Homo sapiens: one gene and its partners. The protein of the gene in region 5 purifies or fractionates together with the protein of the main gene of each other region. This does not show direct contact. Each region holds a gene or a part of one and is shown on either strand. Other genes may lie near its edges. The genes, in order: RRP36, SLTM, SCAF11, FHIT and FDCSP.

Region 1 (2,815 bases), on a different chromosome or scaffold from region 5:
GCAGCTCCTGCTGTTGCTTTCGTTCCTGCTGTGCCATTTCTTGCTGCTCCTGAGGAGCAAAGATGAGATGGGTGAACGGGAGGGATCTGTTCAGATCTGTGAATATCTCCCACCTTTAATTGCTTTCATTACCCACCACAATTATTACCCACTCACCATTCGCTGAAGCAGTTGCTGCAGTTTCTCATGCTCCTCTCCTGAAAGGTGCTTCTTCAACTGTTTTTTCACAAGCTCCACATTGGAAAATGAGTATCATGGTTAGCATTCTGCAAATGTTAGCTGAAATTTTATGTAAAGCATTATCCTAAGAAGTTCACACACATACACACACACACATTTTTTTTTGAGATGCAGTCTTGCTCTGTCACAGGCTTGAGTGCAGTGGTGTGATCTTGGCTCACTGCAACCTCCGCCTCCTGGGTTCAAGCAATTCCCCTGCCTCAGCCTCCCAAGTAGCTGGGACTACAGGCACGTGCCACCACGCCCGGCTAATTTTTTTTTTTATTTTAGTAGAGACTAAATTTCACCATGTTGGCCAGGATGATCTTGATCTCCTCCTTTTGTATTTTAGTAGAGACTAATTTCACCATGTTGGCCAGGATGGTCCCAATCTCCTGACCTCGTGATCCACCTGCCTCGGCCTCCCAAAGTGGTGGGATAACAGGCATGAGCCACCGCACCCGGCCAGAAGTTCACATATATTAACTTGATAACACCAAGACAGTAACTGTTTGTTTGGAGACAGTCTTGCCCTGCTGCCCAGGTTGGAGTGCAGTGACACGATCTTGTCTCACTGCAACCTTTGTCTCCAGGGCACCAGCAATTCCCATGCCTCAGCCTCTTGAGTAGCTGGGACTATAGGCATGCAACACCACACTTGGCTAATTTTTCTATTTTTAGTAGAGATGGGGTTTCACCATGTTGGCCAGGCTGGTCTTGGAACTGCTGGCCTCAAATGATGTGCTCACCTCAGTCTCCCCAAGTGCTGGGATTACTTACAGGCGTGAGCCACCACACCCGGCCTCCAAGACAGTAATTATTATTTTATTTTTTTATGATTAGAAAACTAAAGCATAGAGAGATTAAGTAACATGCCAATAATCACACAGCTAGTAAACTGATGAGCCAGGATTTGAATATGAACTGAATTGGAGAGAGTTAAATCTGCCCACCACTATACTTCCCACTCCCCCTGCCCAACTCTCTAACCTGTGCCCTCATTTTCCACCCCACAAAATTCCCCATAAACCAGTCTCAAGCTGTATACCTCTTTCTCTTTCGCTCGGATGTCATTCAAGAATTGGTATGTTTTGTCAAACACCTCAGGATTATATTCCCCTGACAGATCATCAAAGCGAGGGTCCCGGGCTACCTTTGGAGAGAAGAGAGAGAATATAAAACACAACTGTTCAATCTCCTTTCACTGAGAAAAAGTGCTTCCTGTCTCTTCCTCATCTTTCTTTTTTTTTGCTTTTTGAGACACAGTCTCGCTCTGTCGCCCAGGCTGGAGTGCAGTGGTGCAATCTCGGCTCACTGCAAGCTGTGCCTCCCAAGTTCACACCATTCTCCTGCCTCAGCCTCCTGAGTAGCTAGGACTACAGGCACCCGCCACCACGCCCGGCTATTTTTTTTTGTATTTTTAGTAGAGACGGGGTTTCACTGTGTTAGCTAGGATGGTCTCAATCTCCTGACCTCGTGATTCGCCCACCTTGGCCTTCCAAAGTGCTGGGATTACAGACATGAGCCACTGCGCCCGGCCTCTATTTTTTTTTTTTTTTTTTTTTTTGAGACAGAGTCTTACTCTGTCCCACAGGCTGTAGGGCAGTGGCATGATCCTGGCTCACTGCAACCTTCACCTCCCAGGTTCAAGCGATTCTTGTGCCTCAGTTTTCCAAGCAGCTGGGACTACAGGCACACACCACCATGCCCAGCTAATTTTTGTATTTTTAGTAGAGACAGGGTTTCACCATGTTGGCCATGCTGGTCTTGGAACTCCTGATCTCAGGTGATCGCCCACCTCGGGCTCCCAAAGTGCTGGGATTACAGGCGTGAGCCACAGTGCCTGGCCTTCTTCCTTACCTTTTTACTAATGGGAACAACCTGACGTAAAAATGGTACTCGGATCTTGGCTGACATTTCCAGAGGCCTATGGAGAAATTAAAAGCCAAGTCAAGAGGACTCCAGTGTTGGTCAAAGGCTTCCCACCTGTCACCCAAGACAACATACCTATTCAAGGTCCCAGTTATCTTCCAACTTCTAGGGCAAGCCTTGCTTACCTGTGCTTATCTGCAACACATGCATTTTGGATAGGTGGTCTAGAAGCTTGTTTCTTAGGACTATTTCCAGCTACCAATTGTTTGTACGTCTTAGTCCCCACTTGGCTCTGCAATTCCAACAGCTCCTCAAATGACATGTTAGATGTGCCTGTGGAAGTGGGGAGGGACATACAACTCAGCTCAGCATGTCCCACTGCAGAAAAGACATCTTCCCATCCCCATTCCTTAGCTAGCTAATCCTAATACCCCATCAGACCAATCATTATTAGAAGTCCTAGGCAGCAGAGGCTGTGATAGTGTTAAACTCTCCAACTATTTCAGCAACCTGGGGCCTCATCTTGCTAAGGAAGGTGTATATGTAAGGTCAAAGGTGCACCAAACCATAGTCCCTTCTTTTTCTCTTTTACTCATTCTTTTACTCTCTCTTTTACTCATTCACAGGTTTCCCCAGAAGGGCATCTGCCTCCCTTGCTCAGTTACCATTGCCAGTGTCCTGGTCCACATGCTCAGCATCTCTCACCTCAATCAGTGCTCTAGCC
Region 2 (4,218 bases), on a different chromosome or scaffold from region 5:
AAATGATGTTCCTAGTCAAAACTGAAAAAGGGATATACAGAGAAATTAAAAGTAGGTGAGAAAGGAATAAATCATGTTTATTTTCAATGCTAAAATAATAGTCAACTCAAACAACCTGGGACTATGATTAATACACAGTACCTGTCAAACTAGCACAGCATGCTAGGTAAAAGATATGAATCAAAACTACTGCAAGACACATGGTTAATTCCTGATATACTTATTTCTGAATTTCTATCGTTTTCCATTTTGAAATAGCCTCTGGTTTGTTGGCAGTCTTCTCATGACAAGCTTCTTTAAATACAGAAAATGTATCTCTCAAAGTGATACACTGAGTCAGAGTTATCTTAAAAGCTACCTTTAAGATAACTTTTTTACTTCTCTAAACTACATCCCCACCTCTCCCAGGGAATGCTTATTAGCCCTTTTCAATTTCCTTTGGCACAAACAGGGGACTCTCCTAACCTAGGAAGACTTAAAATAGTGAGTTGTCCTCATCTCTGATACCCAGGTGTGCTTAAGATCAAAATTTAATATTCCCTTTTCAATATTAATCCATTCATTTTATTTTAGTTGCAATCATTCAGTGGTTGGGAGTAACACTTGGATCACTTAAAGCAGTAAAGAAAATTAGATTACAAAAAATGCAGCAGCTGTTCATGACAAACTCTGCATGAAAATTGTAGGTAAAGACCAGAATCCAGATATATCATGTCCACCCTCTGCCACTGTCCTTATAGGAGGGAGAAATTTGCAGTTATTCAAATAAAGGTTTCATTTACCAAGAAGCTTTAAAAAATACCTAAGTTCCATTCATACTGCAAAACGTTCATTTAAAACCACTTTTAGCTAGTCACTAAATCATTATATCCTAGAAATAAATATATTTTGCTCTAGCTTAAAAGTTAAAAATAAGAATCTTTAACATCCCTATAATTTAAAACTTTTTTAAGCTAATTAATCATGGATTTTTCCCTCTACCTTGTTAGTATGATTGGTGAGGTCTTTTTGAATTTCACTAAAAATTAGGAGGTATAATGGCATAAATGCAAATTAAGTTCACCAAGTCAAACAAAGTACTAAACATAAAGGTTATAGAATTTTAATATACTAAAGAAAACAGCAAGGAGGCAAGGTAAAAGATTTGGTAGGAATTCCATCAAAACTCTGCCAATTGTGGGGCAAGGTAGACATGTGTTAAACTGTATTTTATTCAGGTCTTCACACTATGAAGCATCATTACACAACTTGACTTTGTAATTTTTTCCGGAAGCAATAAAGAACTGTTCTCACTTTCTAATCAGCTTCAGCCGAATCTTAAGGGCTACAAGTCACCCAAAGCCTGGCAACAGTAACTTTTCTTCCTTGACCCAAGAAGGCAGACTGCCAGAGGGAAATAGCAAAGAGTAGCACTATATAAACAGGGCAAGAGGCACAAGAGCAGAGGCAAGTTATATAACCAAAATATATTTTAAAACATGTTCATAACTCGTAACAACCTTTGCCTTTAGTTGGTTTCTTGTTTGGAGTATCAGTTGAAACAGTTAATTCAATATTATCTGGATCGCCTCCTTCCTCTTCAATAGCCTACATTAGAAAGAGAAGTTAATATGCTACACAATCTATCTAAACTTATTTTATAAAAACGAAATGAAAAAAAATTTAGCAAACCTCAAGCCTCAAGACATTAGAATTGCCAGTCATTTCATCAACCGACTTCAAAAATGAGCAATTAAACTACACGAAAGAGTGAGAGAAACTTTCAGGGGAAAAAAATCATTAGGTATCAAAATCGCAAGGAGTTTTAAATTCTACCGTGTCAAGATAATTAAATATCACATCATACTGGCCAAAAATCCAAATATGTTCTATTGCAGAAAAGTTGCTAGCTACTAAAGTAAATAACTAAAAAGAGTTTTCCTAGTTTCTGTAATGCAAACTTACTGCTCCTCTGCTACAATTCCAACGCTCACTCAAACCAGAAAGCTAATCAGGAAAGAAAAAGTAATTATTGCGCTGATGCAAAAACTAAAAGCCTAGTGGAAAACAAAAACTCTGTCACCCACCCATCAACTCCCACTACCAATTCCCCCTCAAGATGGGGAAGAAACGGTTGGGCACAATTAAACGGTAACTTCGCAGAAGTCACCAAAGTAACCATTCCCTCTGAGGCCAAGAAATGCACACGCTCACCATGGCTAAAGGCTGGGGAGCCAGCGCCTCCCAGGTCTCCGCGATCGCCCTTGGGAGGCCGCGCCGGCCGGCCGCAACCCTCGCAGCCTGGCGGGGACGTCCCGGGGAGGCGGAGGCACGCTGGGCTGCGGTGGCCGGTCCCTCGCAGGCCCGGCCCGGCCCGGGGCGCGGGGCGGGGGCACCGCGGAAGGGTCCCCGTCCTCCACGCTCGCGGGAGCCGCCCCTGGCCTCCCTACCATGCCGTTCCGCAGGTCCCAGCGGCTGCGGGCAGCCGGAGGCTGCGGCGGAAGCGGGGCGCCGAGGCGCGGCCTAAGTTCCCCTTCCCGGTCCTTTCCGGTCCTCGCCGGGCCTCACCTGCTTGAGTCGGGAGATGAGCACGGTCTTGACTCCGGTGATGTCTAAGTTCCGCCGCTTCAGCTCGGACTTCAGATCGATGACCCGCAGATCGGTGATCTTTTTACCTTCCGCCTGACCCGAGGCGGCCGAGGCTGCCACCGCACCGGTAGCGGCAGCCATCTTAGAAGAGCAGCGCGCTGCCGAGGCAGCGAGTGGGCTGCAGGGCGGCGGCAGCAGCGCCAACTTCCACCCAGGCCTCGGCGGCCGCCGGCGCCGCGCAGCGCTGCGCACAATGAGCCGCTGGCCCCTCCCCCGGTCCGCCACCCTAGCGCAACCTGCAGCAGCAGCCGCCAGCACCCGGATGACGGCCGCGCGTGCGCGTTGGCGCAGGGACCGGCAGCGGCGCGCTCGGTCGAGCGGGCCGCGGCCACTTGGGCGGTGCGCTCCCTTGTGTGGACTGGGAGGTCGGGCACGTCCTACCGCAGCAACGTCCGCCGCGCCGCCGTTCTCTCGTCGCTTCGTTAGCCATTTTCTTGCAACGTCTTGAGTCTTGAGCAACAACGATGTGCGGGCACTGAATGACATAGTGCGCGCGTTACTCAACACAAACCGAGGGGGCGCGTGCGCGCGCTGAACCTCTCAAGGAAATACTTTATCAGTTCTGCTGAATAATCGAAAAATTGTCGCCGGTGTGCACCAACGAACTAGGTTCCCCGAGTTCCATTCAAAAGACCTCAAAGCAGTTCTAGGGCTGTTAGTCCAAAGAATAGGAAGGGCTGGCCTTTGACACATGGCTCATTGGCTGTCTCAGGAGAAAACATCATCGCCCTGCCCATGGCAGCTTAGGTTATTCTAGGGCTGCCCTTCCTCACTTGAAAAACAGGAAAACTTCTTTCTTGTTGGCCTCAGGTTTGCTATCCTCCCCGGTAGACCTGATGGCTCAACACGAAATTGTTCAATGAAAGAGAAAACTAGCTTATAAGTACTTGTTGCCGTTATCATATACTGTGTTCACTATTTTGCCCCCCAAAATTTGGGATTCCAAGAACAGTGAGCATCTTCTTATGGAGGATCGGCCTGTACAAGTGAGTACCTATTTGTAATTTTACCTTGTATTATTCATTATCAAAGTGCAAGCATTGATAAAATAAAACGATTCTATAAATTCCATAAGGTGATTATGATGCACAATTAACTATACTGTATTTCCTGGTTTTACAACTTAAATTCCTGAGATCTGACTCACTTTAGGTTACTTTTTCTGATTGGCTCAAAAAAAAGGAAGACTGGACATTATAAAAGAATACCTGACATTAGGGTAGTTCTTTACAGTTTATAAGGCACTTTGACGTACAGTAACCCCCTTAATCCTTCCCAAGTCTGTCAAGTAAATCTCCGTGAGGCTTAGAGAGATTAAATGACTTGCCCATGTTCACACAGCTGGTATGTGGCCGAGCTGTGCTCAAATCCCAGGCTCCTGATTCCAAATCCAGCTCTGTCTCTGCTACAACATTGGATTCACAATAATAGAAGTTTAGAATGCAAGACTCCTTAGAAATCTTCTGGCCCATCACTTGAGGTCAGGAGTTCAAGACCAAACTGGCCAAGATACAGGGTTTAGTAGAAACCCCGTCTCTACAAAAAATACAAAAATTAGCCGGGTGTGGTGGTGAGCACCTGTAATCCCCG
Region 3 (3,049 bases), on a different chromosome or scaffold from region 5:
GAGGCCAAGGCAGGAGAATTGCTTGAACCCGGAAGGTGGAGGGTGCAGTGAGCTGAGATGGCGCCACTGCATTCCAGCCTGGGCAACAGAGCGAGACTCCATCTCAAAAAAAGAAAAAAAAAGAGAATATTATACAGCCAGTATAAATCATGCTGTAATTTTTACTAAAATGGAAAGTTCTCAGTACGTCAAGTGAAAATGAAAGGTTACAACATATTATGTGCAGTTTGCTTGGCATTAGTTATTACCTTTGGTAGGATTACAGGTGATTTTTCTCCTTTTTCAGTCTCTTCTTTTACACATTTACTAAAGTTTTTCTAATTTCTTACAATAATTATGTAATCAGGGGAAAATGCCATTAAAATATATGCTTATAGCTAACTCTAAGCTTGCTTTAGAGCTTGGGTATTACGTAACCATGATGCGAATGACTGGTACAAATCCAAGTAACACTTCAATACGTTTGTAAGGGATTATAATTGAAAAGTCACCATTCCCCTGGAACCTTAATAATAAAATGTTAAAGACATTAGTTTATCAAAAGAATTTATTAGAAAATATTACACACTACATACATATTTATTTAAGAGTATAATTTCAGTAGACAGCACTCCAACTTCATAATACAAACAATATCTCATGGACCCTGGGGCAATCACTGTGCTTCTGAAGCTACATCTTTTGGATGGAACATTCCAGCAGTACACACTGTGGCCATTTAAAGGAAGGTAAGAGAAAAAAATGTGATAATTACCAAAACAAATTTTAAAAAGCACAAAACTTTTGGAATGTTAATGGATAACTACTATTAGTCTCAAAATTCTAGGCATTTCTATAAAACATTGGTCAATGTGACTAGTAAGTTAACGGGACCAAGGTTTCAAAGATCAATACTGAACCTTGATAAATAATAAGAGGAAATGTAACTCCACAAAATGTTTCTGATTAAGTTTGTGCCCATGCAAAATTAACATAAATTTCTTAACTCAAGAATGAGGAATATTAAAGCAATGTATTTTTTCAACATAAAGCATGCATTTTCTAATACATTCTTAAACATTTCAAAATTTTAAAAGTTCGAATTCTAATCAAGTAGCTATTAATGCAGTCTAACCAGTGCCCCAAATCAGACATGGAACACACACTTGTTACTGTCACGGAAATAATTCATGGGAGTGCTACTAAAGATATATGAGACTTCAACTCTTGACCACATCACTTTTTCTCCAAAACTTTAGAACTTGTTTGCAAAAGCTAAATGGTATAAAACACATTTTAAAATGTCACCCAATTCTCAAATGTCACTGAAAGAAAATGCAGGAAAAGTATGTATTGTGTGATTAATCAGCTTAGGCTTAACTCAAAATACTTTCAATGTTCACAAAATTGTTTCTAGAGTTCTAATCTAAAACAACTAAGGAGGTGTGCCTTGATATTCTGAAACACTGTCTTAATACTTTATTAGAAGAAATATGCTTGAAATTTCTTTACCATAATCTAAACGCAAACTTTAAAAATATATACCAGTAGAATACCATATTACAAATGCCCAGAAATGTAGAATAAAGGTCAAAAACTGCTTGGAAATATTTTTATGATTACACTCATAACAACAAAGCTTATGAACTAGCACAATCATTATGGGACCAACATTTCAAAATATTTTGCCTATCAAAGCTAGCACCAGGAAAAGTATTATGCACATAAAATTGAGAAACAGATAATCTTTACTTTAGAAAAGCACAGTTCTACAGAGTATTGCTCTGGCTAAATAGTTTAGCTAGTAAAAAGGTCAGTTTATCTCACTGAGGCATGTATCTCCTTGGATCTATTAACTTATCTGAAGAACTTTCCAGGTACTTGGTATGTACTGAAAATTCTTACTGGAATCAGTTTATCATGGAGAAAACCTACTGTTCTTTCAAGATGCCAGTTAAAATAATGGCACAATAAACATTTTAAACTTACCTTTTATAAAAACTGAGATATTCTAGTATTAAAAAGAGAAAAAAAAAAAAACCCAAATCCCTAATCCCTGAAAGGCTAACCAGGACTCCATTATTTAAATTTCCCCTCTGTTTCTAAAACACAGGTTTTACTGTCTAGAATTTTGCAACATGGCTAATGGCTACCACCTGGTCACCAAATTAACACTTCATTCATTGTAAAGCATTTGGGGATTTTCAAGTGTGAAAATATTTCATCAGTGATTAGATAAACAACAACTTTACGCCAGTGCCATGAGTCTTGTAATTCTTAGCCCCAAGGAAGGGAGGATAACAGCCTAACAGCAATTCTCGAATTGGCACAAATAATTTATCGTCTGCAACGGGTAGAAGAAGATACTATGAAAGAACATAATTTCTACAAAGTCAACACTTTTTTTTTTCTTTTTTTTGAGACGGAGATTTGCTCCTGTTGCCCAGGCTGGAGTGCAATGGCATGGTCTCGGCTCACTGCAATCCCCGCCTCCCGGGTTCAACTGATTCTCCTGCCTCAGCCTCTCGCATAGCTGGGATTACAGGCGCCCACCACCACGCCTGGCTAATTTTTGTATTTTTAGTAGAGACGGGATTTCACCATGTTGGCCAGGCTGGTCTCGAACTCCTGACCTCAGGTGATCCGCCACCTCGGCCTCCCAAAGTGCTGGGATTACAGGCGTGAGCCATCATGCCCGGCCGAAAGTCAACAATTTTTCCAAATCTTTTTCCTCAAAGTCTTCAACAAAGACTTTGAACTGCCAAAGTTGTAATCTAGTAAGTCAAACTGCTTATCTCAATTAGGGGTAAACAAAGGCACAAAAGAAAAACAAGCAGCATAACCTTTATTTGGTCATACAATAGGTGAAGAGTGTCTCAATGTTTTGAACACTAAATTTTACTCGTGATAATTTTTTTTCTATCTAGGCAATTTATTCAGATATGTGCTTTAAAAATACACATTAGGAACTTTGCAACTGATATGTTCTATTTAATATTAGAAACATTTTTCATGGTAATACATTATTTAACTTTCTATAATTAGAGGGAAAAAATCATAAAGATCATAC
Region 4 (3,577 bases), on a different chromosome or scaffold from region 5:
TCCAGAAACACGGTTTGCAACATAAGCTTGATAAACCCACTCTGAACTGAACTACCTGCCTGAAGGGGACTCAAATGGTTTGACATACAACACATACACACAAAGCATTTGGGGGAAGTTTAGCTACTCTTAACACAGACATGGCAGCAAAAAAAGAAAGAAAAAAATCTGTTTGAGAAGAAGATGAGCACTTTTAGTCAGAGCCTTCATAACCTGAAAACACTGGCTTTCTTTATCTGGTCTCTTTGAAGCTCTATGGTAAAGAGCTAAGGAGGGGAGGAAGAATGGCAAACATTCAGTTTAACTAACAGGCTGAGTACAGAGTCCTCACATTTTGAAAGTGTGTCCTTCTAAAGGGCAATTACAGAGTCATCCAATTTCAGAGCCATGAAGGACTTTATACATTGATACCCCAGCCCTTTCCATAGAGGGCCTGAAGGAGCTCATGGTATGTTACTACGGATTTACTCAATTCCCTACTGATGACTCACCATGGACATCCTTCTCCCAACCTGACAACTGTTGGCTCAACCTCTGCCTAAAAATCTTCAGTGACTGGGGATCTGATTTCTTCACTGGTCAGTGGGCCACACCCAACCAGTGAATCTAGCTTCTAACTAATCTGTGATCAATCTCTGCATCTTGAATTAAAGACAGACAAAAGGTAAGGCCCAACCTAAGCTGCATATCACTGCCACCCTGGAATTAGAGCAGGGCTTAGTCTATGCAGTGCTCAAAAATTAGTTACCATGGAATGAAAATGATTTTTCCAGTCCCAGTTCCAGTAAGCAATTTGGAATGTCTGAATGTCCATTAAATCACTTATCCATTACTCCCACCTGCTTGGTAAACAAGCCTCAGACATCACCTTAGACACTATCCCACGGTCCATCTTGGGGCCAATGGACAGTAGGGTTGCCCTGCATTAGAAATCTCTTTTTTTGGCTGCTACCTAAAATACAAACAATCACATCTGCCCTCCTGGTAAGATATCAGGAGGAGCAAGCCCAATGCCGGGATATGAAAGGGAAGAAAAATCATTTCTGAGAAATCTGTACACTCACCTGCATGGAAAAGGTGAGAGAGGTCCCATGGAAATGTTTTTCCACCACTGTCCCGACTCTCTGGGTCGTCTGAAACAAATCGGCCACTTCATCAGGACGCAGGTCATGGAAGCGCTCCACTGGCCGCAGCGGGCACACAAGGACATCTGTAGCAAGGTCTGTTAAGGCCCATGCTGCTGGCTTTGGGTAGTGTTCTTACCAAGCAGTTCATACCCACAGGATTGAATCCTCTCGGACCAGGGCCTGAACTCTCAAAGACTAAGGAATGAAGAAACAGATATTTACCATCCACTGAACTCCAGAGAGTTGAAAGAGAGCTCCCATACATGGATAATTACACTTTGAAGGAGAAGCTGTGGTATGCAGAAGAATTTCTTGCAAAAGAAAGGGACATTCGTGTACAGACAGACTCAAGTGTATGGTGAGATAATTATGCGAGGAGGCAAGATCTATTCTAGATCATTCTCTCTTGACCCCTATTCTAAAGCTGTGTCCGCTTCAGCAGCCAAAGGCACTAGGTTGAAAAAGCAACTGGAATATCTACTTGGTTTCTCTAGGTAGAACATGGGGATAAATTTTTAATTTAAATTATCTCTTTAGAGAAATAAGAAAATTATGCAATGAACATACAAAAGTAGATGTTTATTTTATTTTTAAAAGAGTATAGACATTCTGAAAATGTACAGTGAACTTTATCCATAACTAAGAGAGGTGCCATGTGGTTAAGCAATTTATGACAAGAGTTCCTCAGACTAATTTTTTTTTTAGAATCCAAAAGAAGACATTTGAAGGTAAATCATGAACGAAAGGTTGTCTGTTTATTCAAATAAAGCATTCTTAATGCATTCTACAAGTTAGACAAGGCAACGTATTTACACTATTGGTCTCAGCAACATATAAGATCTGAGAAAAAAGGATAGAAATTTGATTACTTCTTGATAGGAAATTAATATTCACTGTTACACCATCAATAACATTTCAGTCACTATACACACATGTATGCACACATGTGTATATACACACACTATATATATAAATATTTGTTTAGTTTTTAGATACTAACAAGAGAAACAAACTCTTGTACGTTTTTCTGTTTCTTTTTTCTTGTTGTTTTAAGACAGCATGCTCCTGCCTGGAGCTAAGCAGCTGAGGGGCATAATAAAACCATAATTCTGCAATTGCTAGTCTCACTAGAATATCAACCCCATTCCGCTATTGGTAGAACTCAGAGCCCAAGGGGAAACACAACTGAGCTCAGCTGGTCAGGCCTGATTTCCATAAGAGAGAGGGGAAGAGAAAGAAGAAACTGATTAATTTTGCTCATAATCAGGAAATTCATGTCAATGGTAAACTAGGAAAAGAAGCATTTTTAAAATCAGAGTTCATTTTTCAAGAGAGGAGAAGGGAGGCGTTCACCCACAGGGCATCTGATACTTAAAAAGATAATTATCCATCTTTGGCAGGCCCGCTTTATTATCATGGGTCAATGAACCATTTAGAAATGAAGAATTTCCTTTCATTTCCTTTGAGCAGATTGCCAGCCTCCACTCCCACGAAGCTGCTTTTTCTGTGTTAAAAGGGACCCTTCCCCATATTCCTCCTCCCTGATTTGAATTACACCCTCACTTAGGCCTGACTTCACCAAACCACAGCAAGGGTGACAACCATGCAAGCTTCCAACGAAGTCCATAAGTGCTATGTTAGGCTATGTTCACACACAGCAACTCGGTGGGGGAGGAAGACATTTCACTTCAACAATGGCTTACTGTGAAAACTGGTGGAATAAATCAGACAACCTATGTATCTAATGTAAATTTAGTAATATCAATGACATCCAAAAATGTTTTTTTTCAACACCATAAAAAAACTTATTGTTTGTCAATTTTGCTTGTTTGCATGTTGCTCCTAGAAAAACAACTCAGGGAAAGCAAATTAATTAGAAGAACAGCAGATAGCTTTTGTAATTCTAATGCCACTTTTTATATGCCAATTGTTTTAAAATAATATCACAGATGCAATATAATTTAATTTGGAGCCTCTTAGGCCTTGTTAATGGGTAAATTCCATATTATACATAGGCTATGAAGACACATTTACTTCTGGATCCTGTTTGCTTGGGATTATCTCCTCTGTCAAGATTTCTTAGCCAACATGTAGGATAACCTTTAAAGAATTAAAGTTACTATATTGAATTGAATAAATGTTTTATCCAGTACATATCATGTGTGAAAACTTGTGGAACTGGTTACCACTTCTCCCTATAATCTAGAGTATAGAGTTTTTTTAGCAATAATATTTTTTAAAGGAAGCGAAGGTCAATAGTTATAATTTAGGTTGTATAGCTGACAAGGAGATTTCTCACAGTAGATGAAAACCAAAGGCGACTTCTTAGAGCAGATGAGATTTAAACTGGACTTTAAAAATTGGGGAGTGATTTAACCAGTGGATTGGGCTGGCAACCTACTCACTCATCCATCCCAACACTGCAGTCTCCTCTCAGTCCAGGGTCTATG
Region 5 (4,327 bases):
TTCCTAAATTGAAGCCAATGCTCATTTATCATTTAGAAAATCGTAGTGCCCTTAAGAATTATACTAAATCTACTCTTCCTGTGCTCTGTGGATGGAACAACAAAGCCTGGATGGCAGTACATCTAACACAGCATGGTTTACTAATATTTTCAGCTCACTTCTTAGGAAAAAATGTTTTTTTCAAAATATTGCCATTCATTGAAAATGTACCTGAGCCCCCAAGAACTCTGAAGCAGATGTACAAAGAGATGAATGTTGTTTTCATGCCTGCTAACACAACATCCATTCTGCAGCCTATGGATCAAAGAGTAAATTTGACTTTCAGGTTTCATTATTAAATAAATACATTTTGTAAGGCTATAGCTGGCACAGATAGTGATTTATTTGATGGATCTGGGCAAAGTAAATTAAAAACCTTCTGTAAAATATACACCACTCCAGATGCCATTAAGACCATTTGTGATTCATAGGAGGAGGCCAAAATATCAACATTACAGGAGTTTGGGAGAAGTTGATTCCAACTCTTGTGGATGACTTTGAGGGATTCAAGACTTCAGTGGAGGAAGTAACTTGCAGATGTGGTGGAAATAGCAAGAGAACTAGAATTAGAAGTGAAGCTTGAACATGTGACTTAATTGCTTCAATCTAACGGTAAAACTTGAATGAATGAAAAATGGCTTCTTATGGATGAGCAAAGAAAGTGGTTTCTTGAGATGGAATCTACTCCTGGTGAAGATGCTGTGAATATTTTTCAAATGACAGTAAATGATTTAAAATACTACATAAACTTAATTGATAAAGCAGTGGCAGGGTTTGCAAGGGTTGAGTCCCATTTTGAAAGAAATACTGTGGGCAAAATGCTTCACATGCTCCAAAATGCTACAACATCGCATGCTACAGAGAAATCTTTTGTGAAAGGAAGAGTCAATCTGTGTGTCAAACTTCATTGTTGACTTATTTTAAGAAATTGCCACAGCCAGCTTAGCCTTCAGGAACCATCACCCTGATCATTCAGCAGCCATCAACATCAAGGCAAGACCCTACACCAGCAAAAAGATTATGACTCAGTGAAGACTGAGATAATTGTTAGCATTTTTGAGCAATAAAGTATGTTTTAATTAAGATATGTATGTTGTTTTTCTAGACATACTGCTATTACACTTAACATACAATGCTGTAGTGTAATCATAACTTTTATGTACACTGGGAATCCAAGAAATTCATTTGACCTGCCTAACTTTGATACTCATTCTATGGTGGTGGTCAAGAACTGAACCTGCAGTATCTCTGAAGTTTGCCTGTAATATCAGTTTGGAAAGTCCCTGATTTATGGATCTTTTAAGCTCACTGTTACATTGTTATAAGTAAATACATTACAAAGCTTTTTAAAGACTATTTAATTTAATATTTTACATTGGGGAAAATGTCAATTTTTAATATCATTATCATTTTGAAGTACCTTTGAGATAGTGGAGATTCTAGGGAAATTTTATCACCTTTTGATGTTTCCTATACATCTATGAGACAAAAGAACGCAGTGTAAAAAATGTAGCAAAGTTTTGATCTCTGCCTTTATTTTCTGATACTAATCAAAATTTGAATTCAAATTCAAAAAAGTACCAGATAATCTAATAATTTTGAGAAGACAGGAATGTAAAATTCCGGTCAAGTTCAGACTTCTACAGGCAGATTGTTAATGTAGGAAATCAAGAGTAAAAATTATACAAACACACACATGCACACACTCACACATACTCCTCACAGACACACACATACATATACATAGTCCACTTTCTATGTGCAAAGCAACAATGCTGGGTGCTTTCAGGGATACAATGATAAAGCATAATTTCTTCCACTTGAGACTTCCACATGGAAGATGGATACAGATATTTCTGTAATGTGAAAAAAAAGCGTGATATATACCATATGTAGAAATTGCAAAATATTTTGAGTATTTAGAAGAAGAAAGAGGCAGGTTGAGAAAATAGTTTTGGAGAGAATAGAATTCAAGCAGGGCCTTTACAATATAATTTCTTTCAACTGGTTTCAAGAATTATTCAAAACTACATTAAGCAAATAAGTAAATAATCCACATTACAGACTCTTCCAGATCATATCTTAGAGTCAGGACACAGCATAATTACCAGCTATCTCCTTTTATTTTTATACTTATCAAGTCATGATACCCATAGCAGTTTATTGCTGCGTGCTGTAGAATAAATGATTCTCCAGATAAATCAGATGCATCTTCCTAGATAATTAATTTTATTCAAGAGTTTATGGGAAAGACAAATGACTTTTATATTAAAATCAACATAAAATGTTATGGAATGGAATGTAAGTACTGTATATATTTTAAAGATAAAAGAGGAGGCCAAAGAAATTGGCACTTGCTCAGACTTTAGAGAATCTCTGGCGGGGCGTATTCCCTCTGTTTGCTGACCTGATGGCCACAAATTTAAAAATAAACCTGAGGCTCTGTTGTTTCACTCTGTCCACACTCTCCCCCACCAGTGCTCCACTCCTAGAAAGATTCATTTATGGTCACTCTAAAATAAATATTTACTACAGCAGGGTGGTGATTTTAAAAAAAGTTTTGCAAACAGAATACTAAAAATGGTTTTCTAATTACTAAGTCTACAAATTCAAGCAACCATTACAATTTAGTCTCAACAATTAAAATTTTTATGATTTAAAGAAAAATATATGGAGAGATGCTATATATCTATATTTACAAAATAGATATACAATCTTAGTTTACAATGATATTTAAGACCTTTCTTACCTCAAACGTTTCAGTCAGTTCTTTCTCTCTGACGCTGTTATGAGAAATGGCAAGTGACTGGCCCTGGAATATTGTAGCTGTTTTATATACTCAAAGGTATAATGGAATGGAGAAATCTGTGGCTTAAAGGCCTCTCCCCTAGGATCAGTTATTACTCATCAACTATCTCAATATGTTGAAATTGGGGAATAACCAATGTTTAGTTTCCTAGAAACTACCAAATACCAAAATCTTTTGTGGTTTTTTTCTCCAAATTTTGTGTCTTGTATATTTGAAGTTTATCACTTTACATGTTGTTGCTCCATTGTCTACTCTCACAATTTTTTCCTTTACTTCCCACAATTTAAAATACCTCTAAGCATTTTACTGGTATTGATTATAACCTATTGCAAAGCATATTTGATAGTGCTGGAATCTTAAGAAAATAAAAAATCTAAAAATTGTTTAAGATGGGATTAAAATCTTTTGCATGATTCTTCTTTCAACTTCTTCATTTTATTATCAGGATTAGAGCTTCGTAGATGAGTGAATTGTATTTTTGGAGCACCACAGCATCTTGTTTACCTTATGGAACACTATACTCTATTTCTCAACTAAAAATTCACTTACAGCAGAAAAGGTATCATTATTAAGTGCGGGAACAGAAACTAGGGCCCACAAAACATTCAAGAATTACCTTAAATATGCGTGCATATTGTATATGCCTTTTTCAAGAGTCATAAAATTTGAGCTTTAACTAATTCGAGAGCTTTTAAGAATATTCTGTTATTGAGTTCGATTTCTACTTCAAAAGAGGTTATATAGTCCAGATTGTAGTAGTAGTGCATCAAAGTCCCTTTTCTTCTTTTTATTTTTTCTAGAATTCAGTTCTCAAGGCAACTCAGAAAAATAATAGCAGGTAAGTTTTTTTGAGGACTTTAAGTGCTGAAGCACAAATTTAAATGCTTTATATATATAATATAATTAAATCTCCCAAACAACCACCTTAAGAGGAAAGTACTATGATCAACACCATCCCATTTTGAGACTGAGAAGCAGAGAATATTAGTAATCAGTCTGGGTATTACAGCTAGTCTCTGGCAGATATTGAATTGAGCACCAGCAATTTGGTTCTAAAACCCACATTTATAACTGGTGCCTTATACTGTCACTGTTAACAGAAGGTTAGAAAAATCAGCACAAAGCCAGAGAAACATTAAACTACTTCCTTCACCTATAACTCAACGTTTAATCTTATCTCAATGATTTAAAGAAAACTGCCTGAATCAGAAACTTAATATATTAAACCTGTTATGTTATTGTACATATTTTGACCAATTTGGGGCTCATAGTACATTTCCCCAGGGATGGGGATGACAGGTGTGTGTGTGTGTGTGTGTGTGTGTGTGTGTGTGTGTGTGTATTATCCATTTCCTTACCTAAAACCTGTCGTTCAATTTATTCTACTTCAATTTCTTTTATCTGAAATAGCTCTAATGGAGGTTGGCAATTGCCACTGAATTGTGAAAACCATAAATGATTTTCTGTCCTTGTGTTACT

Evidence for each region.
Region 1: the proteins of FDCSP (region 5) and RRP36 purify together in Homo sapiens (affinity purification with mass spectrometry; one large-scale study listed by BioGRID and IntAct). This does not show direct contact.
Region 2: the proteins of FDCSP (region 5) and SLTM purify together in Homo sapiens (affinity purification with mass spectrometry; one large-scale study listed by BioGRID and IntAct). This does not show direct contact.
Region 3: the proteins of FDCSP (region 5) and SCAF11 purify together in Homo sapiens (affinity purification with mass spectrometry; one large-scale study listed by BioGRID and IntAct). This does not show direct contact.
Region 4: the proteins of FDCSP (region 5) and FHIT purify together in Homo sapiens (affinity purification with mass spectrometry; one large-scale study listed by BioGRID and IntAct). This does not show direct contact.

What each region holds. Positions count from the first base shown.
Region 1 is NC_000006.12:43,024,594-43,027,408, reverse strand, and holds part of RRP36 (ribosomal RNA processing protein 36 homolog), read right to left. Parts: intron 2,425-2,815; coding exon 2,277-2,424; intron 2,147-2,276; coding exon 2,080-2,146; intron 1,373-2,079; coding exon 1,268-1,372; intron 280-1,267; exon of another isoform or gene 232-279; coding exon 157-231; intron 50-156; coding exon 1-49. UniProt on the Homo sapiens protein: Involved in the early processing steps of the pre-rRNA in the maturation pathway leading to the 18S rRNA.
Region 2 is NC_000015.10:58,930,857-58,935,074, forward strand, and holds the start of SLTM (SAFB-like transcription modulator), read right to left. Parts: upstream 2,824-4,218; 5' UTR 2,710-2,823; coding exon 2,548-2,709; intron 2,457-2,547; exon of another isoform or gene 2,197-2,456; coding exon of another isoform or gene 2,194-2,196; intron 1,588-2,193; coding exon 1,500-1,587; intron 1-1,499. UniProt on the Homo sapiens protein: When overexpressed, acts as a general inhibitor of transcription that eventually leads to apoptosis.
Region 3 is NC_000012.12:45,918,602-45,921,650, forward strand, and holds the end of SCAF11 (protein SCAF11), read right to left. Parts: 3' UTR 709-3,049; coding exon of another isoform or gene 673-708; 3' UTR 530-672; downstream 1-529. UniProt on the Homo sapiens protein: Plays a role in pre-mRNA alternative splicing by regulating spliceosome assembly.
Region 4 is NC_000003.12:60,012,943-60,016,519, forward strand, and holds part of FHIT (bis(5'-adenosyl)-triphosphatase), read right to left. Parts: intron 1,323-3,577; exon of another isoform or gene 1,276-1,322; coding exon of another isoform or gene 1,264-1,275; intron 1,211-1,263; coding exon 1,065-1,210; intron 1-1,064. UniProt on the Homo sapiens protein: Possesses dinucleoside triphosphate hydrolase activity. Cleaves P(1)-P(3)-bis(5'-adenosyl) triphosphate (Ap3A) to yield AMP and ADP. Can also hydrolyze P(1)-P(4)-bis(5'-adenosyl) tetraphosphate (Ap4A), but has extremely low activity with ATP.
Region 5 is NC_000004.12:70,224,644-70,228,970, reverse strand, and holds the start of FDCSP (follicular dendritic cell secreted peptide precursor), read right to left. Parts: upstream 2,848-4,327; 5' UTR 2,789-2,847; intron 1-2,788. UniProt on the Homo sapiens protein: Can bind to the surface of B-lymphoma cells, but not T-lymphoma cells, consistent with a function as a secreted mediator acting upon B-cells.